Regions from separate parts of the Homo sapiens genome. Here region 2 is linked to region 1. Evidence: fine-mapped expression QTL. Tissue or cell type: whole blood. Region 1 holds a variant in brackets; the other region holds the start of a gene. All regions are shown on one strand. Distances are from middle to middle. Region 1 has its middle 41 kb from the start of MAGI2. Region 2 holds the start of MAGI2-AS3 (MAGI2 antisense RNA 3).

Evidence for each region. PIP is the estimated chance that this variant, and not a neighbour inherited with it, causes the effect.
Region 2: MAGI2-AS3 starts here. The variant in region 1 is fine-mapped to the expression of MAGI2-AS3 in whole blood (INTERVAL, PIP above 0.99).

Annotation. Positions count from the first base shown.
Region 1 is chr7:79,492,140-79,496,532 of GRCh38, reverse strand. No RefSeq gene overlaps it. Among named protein-coding and RNA genes, the nearest start is that of MAGI2, 41 kb to the right of the region's middle. The variant AT/T (reference allele first, on the strand shown) is at 2,431.
Region 2 is chr7:79,450,901-79,455,293 of GRCh38, reverse strand. It overlaps MAGI2-AS3 (MAGI2 antisense RNA 3), which reads right to left and starts at 2,337. Exons shown (of 4, transcript NR_038346.1): 1 at 2,103-2,337; 2 at 1,639-1,707. MAGI2 (membrane associated guanylate kinase, WW and PDZ domain containing 2) reads left to right here and starts at 1,627. Exons shown (of 22, transcript NM_012301.4): 1 at 1,627-2,274. The coding sequence starts at 1,974. RefSeq lists an enhancer at 2,887-3,181.

The sequences.
Region 1 (4,393 bases):
AAGTTATCTGAGAAAGAATAATAGATCTAGTTAATGAAAAAATGCTTATCACTAATCACCAGGAAAATGCAAATTAAAACCATGATGAGATATCACCTCTCACCTGTTAAAGTGGGTATTATCAAAAAGATAAAAGATAAATTCTGGTGAGGATGTAGAGAAAAGGGGACTCTCACACACTGTTGGTAGGAATGCAAATTAGTACAGCCATTATAGAAAACAGTATGGATGTTCCTCAAAAAATTAAAAATAGAATTACTCTATGATCTAGCAATTTAACTACGGCATATATCAAAGGATATGAAATCAGTATGTCAAAGAGATATCTGCACTCACATGTTCATTGCAGCATTGTTCACAATAGCCACGATATGGAGTCAGTCTGTGTCTATCAACAGATGAATGAGTCAAAAAATGTAGTGTACATATACACAATGGAATGTTACTCAGCCACAAACAGAATGAAATCCTGTTATTTGTGATAACATGGATGAAACTGAAAGACATTATGGTAAGTGAAATAAGCCAGGCACAGAAAGACAAATACTGCTTACATACATGTGGAATGTAAAAAAAGTTGGACTCATAGAAACAGAGAGTAAAATGGTGGTATTCAAAGGCTGGAGGGTGGAGAGGTTTGGGAAATGTTGGTCAAAGGACACAAAGTTTTACTTAGGAGGAATAAGTTCAAGAGATGTATTGTACTTCATAATGACTGTAGTTAATAGCAATATATGGCATGCTGGAACATTGTTAAGAGAGTACAATTTTTGTTCTCACCACAGAAAAATGTTAAGTATGTGAGGTAATCCACATGTTAAATGGTTTGGTTTAGTCATTCCACAACGTATATACGTATATATCAAAACATCATGTTTTACACCATAAATCAAGGGTTTCCAATCTTTTGGCGTCCCTGCGCCACACTGGAAGAATTGTCTTGGGCTACACATAAAACACACTAACACTAACCACTAATGATAGCTGTTGAGCTTAAAAAAGTTACCAAAAAATGTCAGGTTTTAAGAAATGTAGGAATTTGTTTTGGGCCACATTCAAAGCTGTCCTGGGCCGCATGCAGCTCATGGGCCATGAATTGGACAAGTATGCTCTAAATATATACAATTTTTTGTTGATTAAAAAAAAAGAAGAAGAATAGAGCTAGATAGACAAATGATTATGAACCAAATTGGAAAAAAATAGGTTTTCTTCCTAGAAAGTTGTAATTTGTAGAACAGTTTTTCTGGAATGTCCATTTAAGCTTCCATGGAACCACAATTTTTATTCTATAAAAATTCTTTCAAAGTGTATAAACATGTGACCTTACCAATTAATTAACTCATGAGTGTAGATGATATTAAGGTTCTGTAGATCAAAGGACAATTCCTTCTCTAGCCTGTATTTAGGGGAATAATAAGAACAAATGTTGATAAAATACTTATGTTCTGAATTCTTTACATATATTCATTCATATAATCCTCAAAACATTCTCCAATGTATATACTATTATTATCCCCATTTTACTGATGACAAAACTGAGATACAAAGAAATAAGTAATATGCCCAACTTCACGTATCTAAGAACTGACTGAGGGTGAGATGAGAACGTGGCCATGTAGCCCTAAAGGCTACATTCGTAAAACATTTGTATACTAAGTCCCTATCCAGAACCTATTCCAATTGTAACATACATATATAGTACAAAAGGGAATGCTTAATTGCACAAATATCTGTGTATGCAAATGGTATGCTGCTTACCAAAGGTTTTTTTTTTTTAACAGTTTTTAGTGATATAGGGAAATGATCATGAACAGAAAAAACAACATGAGAAGATATGTTAAGATTAGCTTTTTTTGTGCATTTGGATTCAGTAAAACAGTAAAAGATTAAAGGATTAATTTGATTAAACATTTCAAATGGACTAAAGAACATATATTCATATAAGAAACTAAGGTTAAAAAGTAGAGCGATTTTCATAAGTAACCTGTGTGAAAATTTTATAAATAAAAGCTTTCCTCATAATCATCCTGCTTTTCCTTAATATAAAAAAGAAGCATGAATAAATATTGTTGTAATTCCTTTACTTAGTAATAATCCCTGAAGTGACGGTAATTTCTATTGAAATATAGCATGGTATCTCTTACCTCCCTTATCCCCATTCTCACTCTCTCCCACAAAGGCTTGCAGTAGTCTGTGGACACAAACTATTCTTAGTGCTTATTATTGTAAATATTGTCGTATGTCCTAAACCAACATTAAAGTAATAAATTTGACACAGAACCATATGAAGCAAATGCTAAGATTAGCAAAGTAATGTAGTTAGTGCATTCCTGTTGGAACTCTATGACAAAGCAGAATGTTATCAGTTAAAAATGACACCCCAACCACAAATGCTAGATATCTTCACACTTATGTGTTGTGAAAAAAAAA[AT/T]TCTCTTTCCTGTAAAGGCTTATAGATAATTCATGCTTTTTAACACACTAAATTTTAAAGGGAATAAAAGGCAGATTACGTGTGCGCTACTATGGAATTCCAAGATGTTAACGAAGCACTCAAAAAGGGAACCTGTGCAAAAAATTAAAAAATATTATTTTTCAGTTTTATCTTCCTTTGAGTACCCCATTCACTGTTTCCTCCATTTCTCCTTCCCCTTCTGTCTTATTTAGGCTGCTATAACACAATACCATAGGCTGAATGGCTTAAACAACATTTATTTCTCACAGTTCTCCAGGTAAAAAGTCCAAGATCAAAGTGCCAGCAGATTTACTGTTTGAGGAGGGCTCTCTTCCTGATCTGCAGAAGGCCATCTTCTCCTTGTATTCTGATATAGCAGAGAGAGAGGGAGAGAGAGGGAGAAAGAGAGAGAGAGAGAGGAGAGAGAGAGAGAGGAGAGAGAGAGAAGAGGGGATGGAGAGAGAGAGAAGGGGGGGGGATGAAGGAAGAACTCTCATGTATCCTCTTATAAGAGAACAAATCACATCATGACTGCTCCACCCTCATGATCTAAGGCCCTATCTCCAAAAATCATTTGAACCCAAAAATTTTGTGAGGACACAAACATATAGTCTATGCCTTATCTTTGGAACAAAATGCCTTCTTGTTACCTATTGGCTGCCCAGAGCCAACTCCTTTTTTATAAGTAGAAAATGTAGTATTTGACTTCTTTTAGTACTATTTTGTACCCATATCTGAACATTGTGTCATGTATCCCGTCTTCTAGATACAGCTTTTACAAGTAATGTAAAGGGTGTAAAGTAACTCCAGTAGGGTATAGGCTACTAAATGAGGCATTTCCCTCCTTCTCCCACCTCCAGTCCTGTTTATGATCCAGACTGCTTCTATCTATAAAGCTGCTAACCCTTGAGCCTTGAAAGAAAAAGCTAAACACCAGCTGCCAGTCTTTTGGTTGTACAAAAAGAAGTCCTGGACAATATGAACGCTTTTTCTGGATTGGCTGCATCTATGCTTTGTCCCTGAAGTCAGGAAGTACCTTACCGGTAAGGGACTGCGTTTTGAAGTTCTTTTGATATTAATCAATGCCCCTGGCCACCCAGAACCCCATGAATTCAACACCTAAAACATTAAAGTGGTCTACTTGCACCCAAACACAATGTCTCTAACGCTGCCTTTAGATTAGGGAGCATAGGGGCCTTTAAGGCTCATTACACACAGTACCCCATGGAAAAGATTGTCAAGAAACTCTGATGGAGAGAGTATTATGAATGTCTGGAAGGACTACACCATTGAAGAGGCATTTGTTGTTACAGGAAAATCCATGAAAGCCATTAAGGCCAAAGCAATACATTCTTGCTAGAGAAAACTGTTCAGTTGTTGTGCCTGACTTCACAGGATTTACAAGAGAGCCAATCAAGAAAATCACAAAAGAGATTGTGGATATGTCCATCACCCAAAATAAAAGGTGAGGGGAGAAGGTTTTCAAGATAAAGATTTCAGAAAATTTTAAGAGCTGATAGACACTGTGTTAGTCTGTTCTGGCATTGCTATAAAGAACTACCTGCGACTGGGTAATTTAAAAAGAAAAGAGTTTTAATTGACTTACAGTTTTGCAGGCTGTACAGGAAGCATGGCTTGGAGGCCTCAGGAAACTTATAATCATGGCAGAAAGTGAAGGGGAAGTAGGTACCTCTAACATGACCAGAGAAGGAGGAAGAGAGCAGGGGGAGATGCTACACTTTTAAACAACCAGATCTTATGAGAACTCATTCACTATCACCAGAGCAGCAAGGGAGAAGTCCACCTCCATGATCCATTCACCTTTCACCAGGCCCCTTCTACAACATTAAGGATTACAATTCAACATGAGATTTGGGTAGGGTCACACATCCAAACCATATCAGACACCATGCCAGAGGAATTAACAGAAGACTCCATGAT
Region 2 (4,393 bases), 41 kb after region 1:
CCATTTAACAACTAAGAAAGCTGAGGCTCAGGAAGGTCAAGCAGTTTACTCAAGATCATATTCTCAGTAAGCCGCAGAGTCTGGATTGAAACCTGGTCTTTCTGTTTGGGTCGACTCAACATTTTTAACCGTATTGTTTGCCTCCTACATCGCCTTCATCTCAGACATTAAGAATCCTACCTATTCAATGCTTTTCATCCTCCGCTTTAAAGAGATAAGTGGGTGCACAACTTTTTTTTTGCCTGAAACATATCATCTAAAAGTTAAGCAAATGAAATTCATTTACCAGTTACAGGAATCTTTTTCTTAAATCACTGTTAATGTCTCACAGGAAATTAGCTCTTCAGTGGAAATCAGCAGCCTCCCTGCATCCTTTTGCCCCTGTCCTCCCCTCTCTTGGATGCAAACCTGGCGAAAAGAAGGGAACACTGCTTGGGGTCAGCGAGCTGAGTTCCAGCTCCGAATGTACCATTTTCACCCTCGGGAGTCTTCTCCCCTTTCTCTGTGAGCAAAGGAGTGTTGGGCCAGACCGTCTTAAGGATTCTTCCCCAGGTACAAGCCGGACTCTGGCGGCTTTCCTGGGCAAGGGAGTGTCTCCGCCTTGTCTCTGCCGCAGGTCCCTGGTTAAATTGTCAATTTCTCTGCGGAGGCTGCTCACTGCATCCGCTCCCTCCACCCCTAGCCCTGTAGACCCCTTCTCTTTCCCCTACTTGGGAAAAGTGAAGCCCCTTATCCTTGGATAGCCTTTCACCAGACAACCGCAGCCGTCCGCTAAATTCCCCTACTGGCGGGACGCGCGGGCGGGGGCCTGCCCCGGGGAATGCGAGGCTGCTTCCCTTCTGCGTAATCAGGGTACGCAGCCTCCAGTTCTCTAACTTTCTCCTTCTCTAAGAGGGAATTTCGAGAACTTTAAGACAAATAAGTGACTATATAGATGAAGACATGAAACCTCTCTACACAGTGAACTCCCCCACGCTACAAGGCTCCCAGGGATCCCAGGCCTTCTCCCGCAATGCCCCGCCGGGTCCCCCGCCCCAACTCCTTCTCACGGCAGGATCCCGCGCCAGGACGCTCGCAGAGCCCGAGATGTGGCACCAGGCGCGCCACAAGTCCAGGTCCCGCTATTTCTGCTCCATCGGAGCCCAGGTCGGAGGGAGTCAGCGCGTCCTCCTCGCACAGGAGCCTGGCGCGCGGCTCGGTCGCACAGAGGCTGAAGAAAGGTCCGCACTGGGCTCGAGGCCCTTCCTGCCGGCCTCCCCACGCCGGGCCTAGGCTCCCCTCCTTCCCGGCTCCCGCCTCCTCCCGTAGGCTGCCAGGCGGACCCAGCCTGCCTCTCTCTCTGCCTTCACTACCGGGTCAAGCTGCGGAGGGAGGGAGGGAGGCAGCGGCGAAGCCCTCCGTGGCTCCCCACCCGGCGCGCGCGCCCCTCCTCCCCTGCCTCCTCCCGTCTGCCAGTACAGTAGAACTAGTACACACACACACACACACACACACGCACACGCACCCTGCCACTGCAGCTGCCATGGATATCAGCTAACAACACACACCCAGGCGCGCGCGCGCGTTCCCACTCGCACCACGCAGGAGTGGCCCCCGGCATCCCTACCCTCCTTCCCCACCCCCACCACACCCGCTCACCAGCTCGGCTACTGCTCGCTCCGGCTGCCGCCGCCGCCGCCGCCGACGCCACCACCACTGCTTCCTCTGCTGCGGGGCCACAGCCTTGAGTGTCATTCAAGGGACAGCACAACCTCATCCAAGCTCTCCTACCTCTGCCCAGCCGTCCCTCTCATCCTCCCCATTCCTCGTCCACACTCCATCCAAAGAAGAGGGAAAGCACCGAATAGAGGGGGGCGAAGGCAAAGTCTGCTGTTCTTCCCCCTGGGCCCCCTTGCTCCTCCATCCTCATTCTCTCACCACCAGCCCCCCTAACCCCAAGGAGCCCAGGAACTGAGGCGACTCGCCCCACTGCCATGTCCAAAAGCTTGAAAAAGAAAAGCCACTGGACTAGCAAAGTCCATGAGAGTGTCATTGGCAGGAACCCGGAGGGCCAGCTGGGCTTTGAACTGAAGGGGGGCGCCGAGAATGGACAGTTCCCCTACCTGGGGGAGGTGAAGCCCGGCAAGGTGGCCTATGAGAGCGGCAGCAAATTGGTGTCGGAGGAGCTGCTGCTGGAGGTGAACGAGACCCCCGTGGCGGGGCTCACCATCAGGGACGTGCTGGCCGTGATCAAACACTGCAAGGACCCCCTCCGGCTCAAGTGTGTCAAGCAAGGTGAGAGCAGCGGCTTGCTCAGTGTTTTGCCGGGCGGTGGGACCGCTCGGGGCGCAGGGCAATGAAAGGGTGGCCGCGCATGTTGAAGGGGGTGTGTTGCGCGATGATGGGGTGGGGGCCAGAGAGCACCCGCAGTGCAAGTGAGTTTCGCCGGGGATTCGACTTGGGGGCTAAAGGGAGGGGAGGGGCAGGTTGTGGTGTGGCGTGCAACTTTGTTTGCTCAGTTAGACCCTCCCCTTTGGAAGGTGCTCGGCCTGGTCTGACCTCCTCAGAGCTGCTGGGGCAAATTGAATGTGCGTCAGTGGCATCACCCGAAGCGGATGAAGAGCTTTTGGGGAAGGGAGGAAGGAAGAAAAGAAAGAAAGAATGGGAGGAAGGGAGGGAAAGAAGGAAGGAGCAACTTCAGGGTGCAGCGGCATCACCAGCGGGTCTGGGAAGAGAAGGTGGTGGGGTGAGCGGAGAACTGCGTCCAGCGTTTCTGGGGCTGGGCTGGGGGCGCCTGGGTCCCCAGCTGTCCCTTAGGGATCCGTGAGCCACCGCTGGCGAAGAAAAGAAGGGACAAATTGCTTTGGGCGCTTTGACGGGTCTTCTGTAACTTTTCCCCTTCTTCACTCCGTGTCCCCCTCCCCCGCTCACGGTCGTGTCATGTGGGCATCGCGCGTCACGTGCGTACTGACTAACCCCTGCGCTCACCCCTAGCCAGCCCGGGGGAGGAGGCTCCGGAAGAAGGCGCGGTGCTAGGAGCGCAGTCTAGTGCTGGGCGGGGGTCGGAGGAGATGAATGGTTGTCGGAGGAGATGAATGGTTGTCCGCATGGACTTTACTCAGGGGTTGCCCTCATTGAGTGGAAGTCCTCTGTGGTTGGGCTCTCCTCTGGCTCCGATTTGGGGGGCGTGTTTTGGGGGAGGAGCTGGATGAAACCCTGGCCGGTTCCAGCCCAGGCTCCCTCAGCTCCAACCTGACTTAAATGAACCTCAATTGGAGGCTGTGATGTGGATTTGGGGAGATTGGAATCATCCAGAACTCCCTGTCTTTGCTCGAAAGAAAATTATGGTGCAGAAGGAGAGAAGAGTGAGATAAAAGTTTGAATAGAGGACAACTTTAAGTAGAATAAAGTAGTAGCTTTTTTCTTTTCTGTTTTCTTTTTTAGCTCACTGCACAATTCGTGTGCGGTATGTATGGATATTTGCGTCACAGGCATATTAGCATAAGGGTTTGTTGTTGTCGTCGATGTACACTGTTTGTCCTGACTCAAAGGTGGAATTGAGCATGTCATTACCTGCATTTTGCCGCTTAATCATGATCAACTACTAAGAAATGCTTTTACGGAGATGTACCGCACTGTTAAATTATTCTCTAAAAAACTTGTTTTAAAATAAACAAGATAAAAAGAAGTACTGGGCAAGGTTTCTTAAATGTAAATTGCCATACAAGAAAATGTTTTCCTTGGGTATTCTTGAGTATTAAGAGGTAATAAATTGAGATAGGTTATTATAAGTCAACATAGCTCCATACTATTTAACACTGAAGGGATATGAGTTTGGTAGGAAGGAAAATAGAGTAACTTGATATTTTTGAAGATAAGATACCTAAGGTTCAAATACAGAGATTCATGTTAACATGTTCGATGTCAAAATACCACCTTATAGGAATAGACATAAATGGAAAGATCTTTGGGTACGAAAAGTCTACTACACAACTAATGACCATGGTTTTGTTGGCCAAATGCTTGATATTTGTCATGGAACGTGGCTGCAAAAGTTAAGCGTTGTTAAATTGGACTTAATAGAGTCCCACAAACGGATGCCCTATTATAGTTTGCAATGATCATCACATCTTAAATGTTGTGTTCAATTCTGAGCACTCCTTGTTGAGGCGGACGTTGGCAAACTGTCACGCTAGCAAAGAGTAAGTTCAAAAGAGAAATAAAGGAAGATTATTGTGTATTATAGATGTATTCTATGAAATGCCGTGGAAAGACTTAACGTGGAGAAGTGAAAGAATGAAAGCTATCATTAAATAGCGAAAAGCTATCAGGTAAGAAAAGGAATTCTGACTATCCTGTGATAGCCCACAGGACAAAATGGTGATAAATCTATGAGAAATTTGAAAGGATGAAG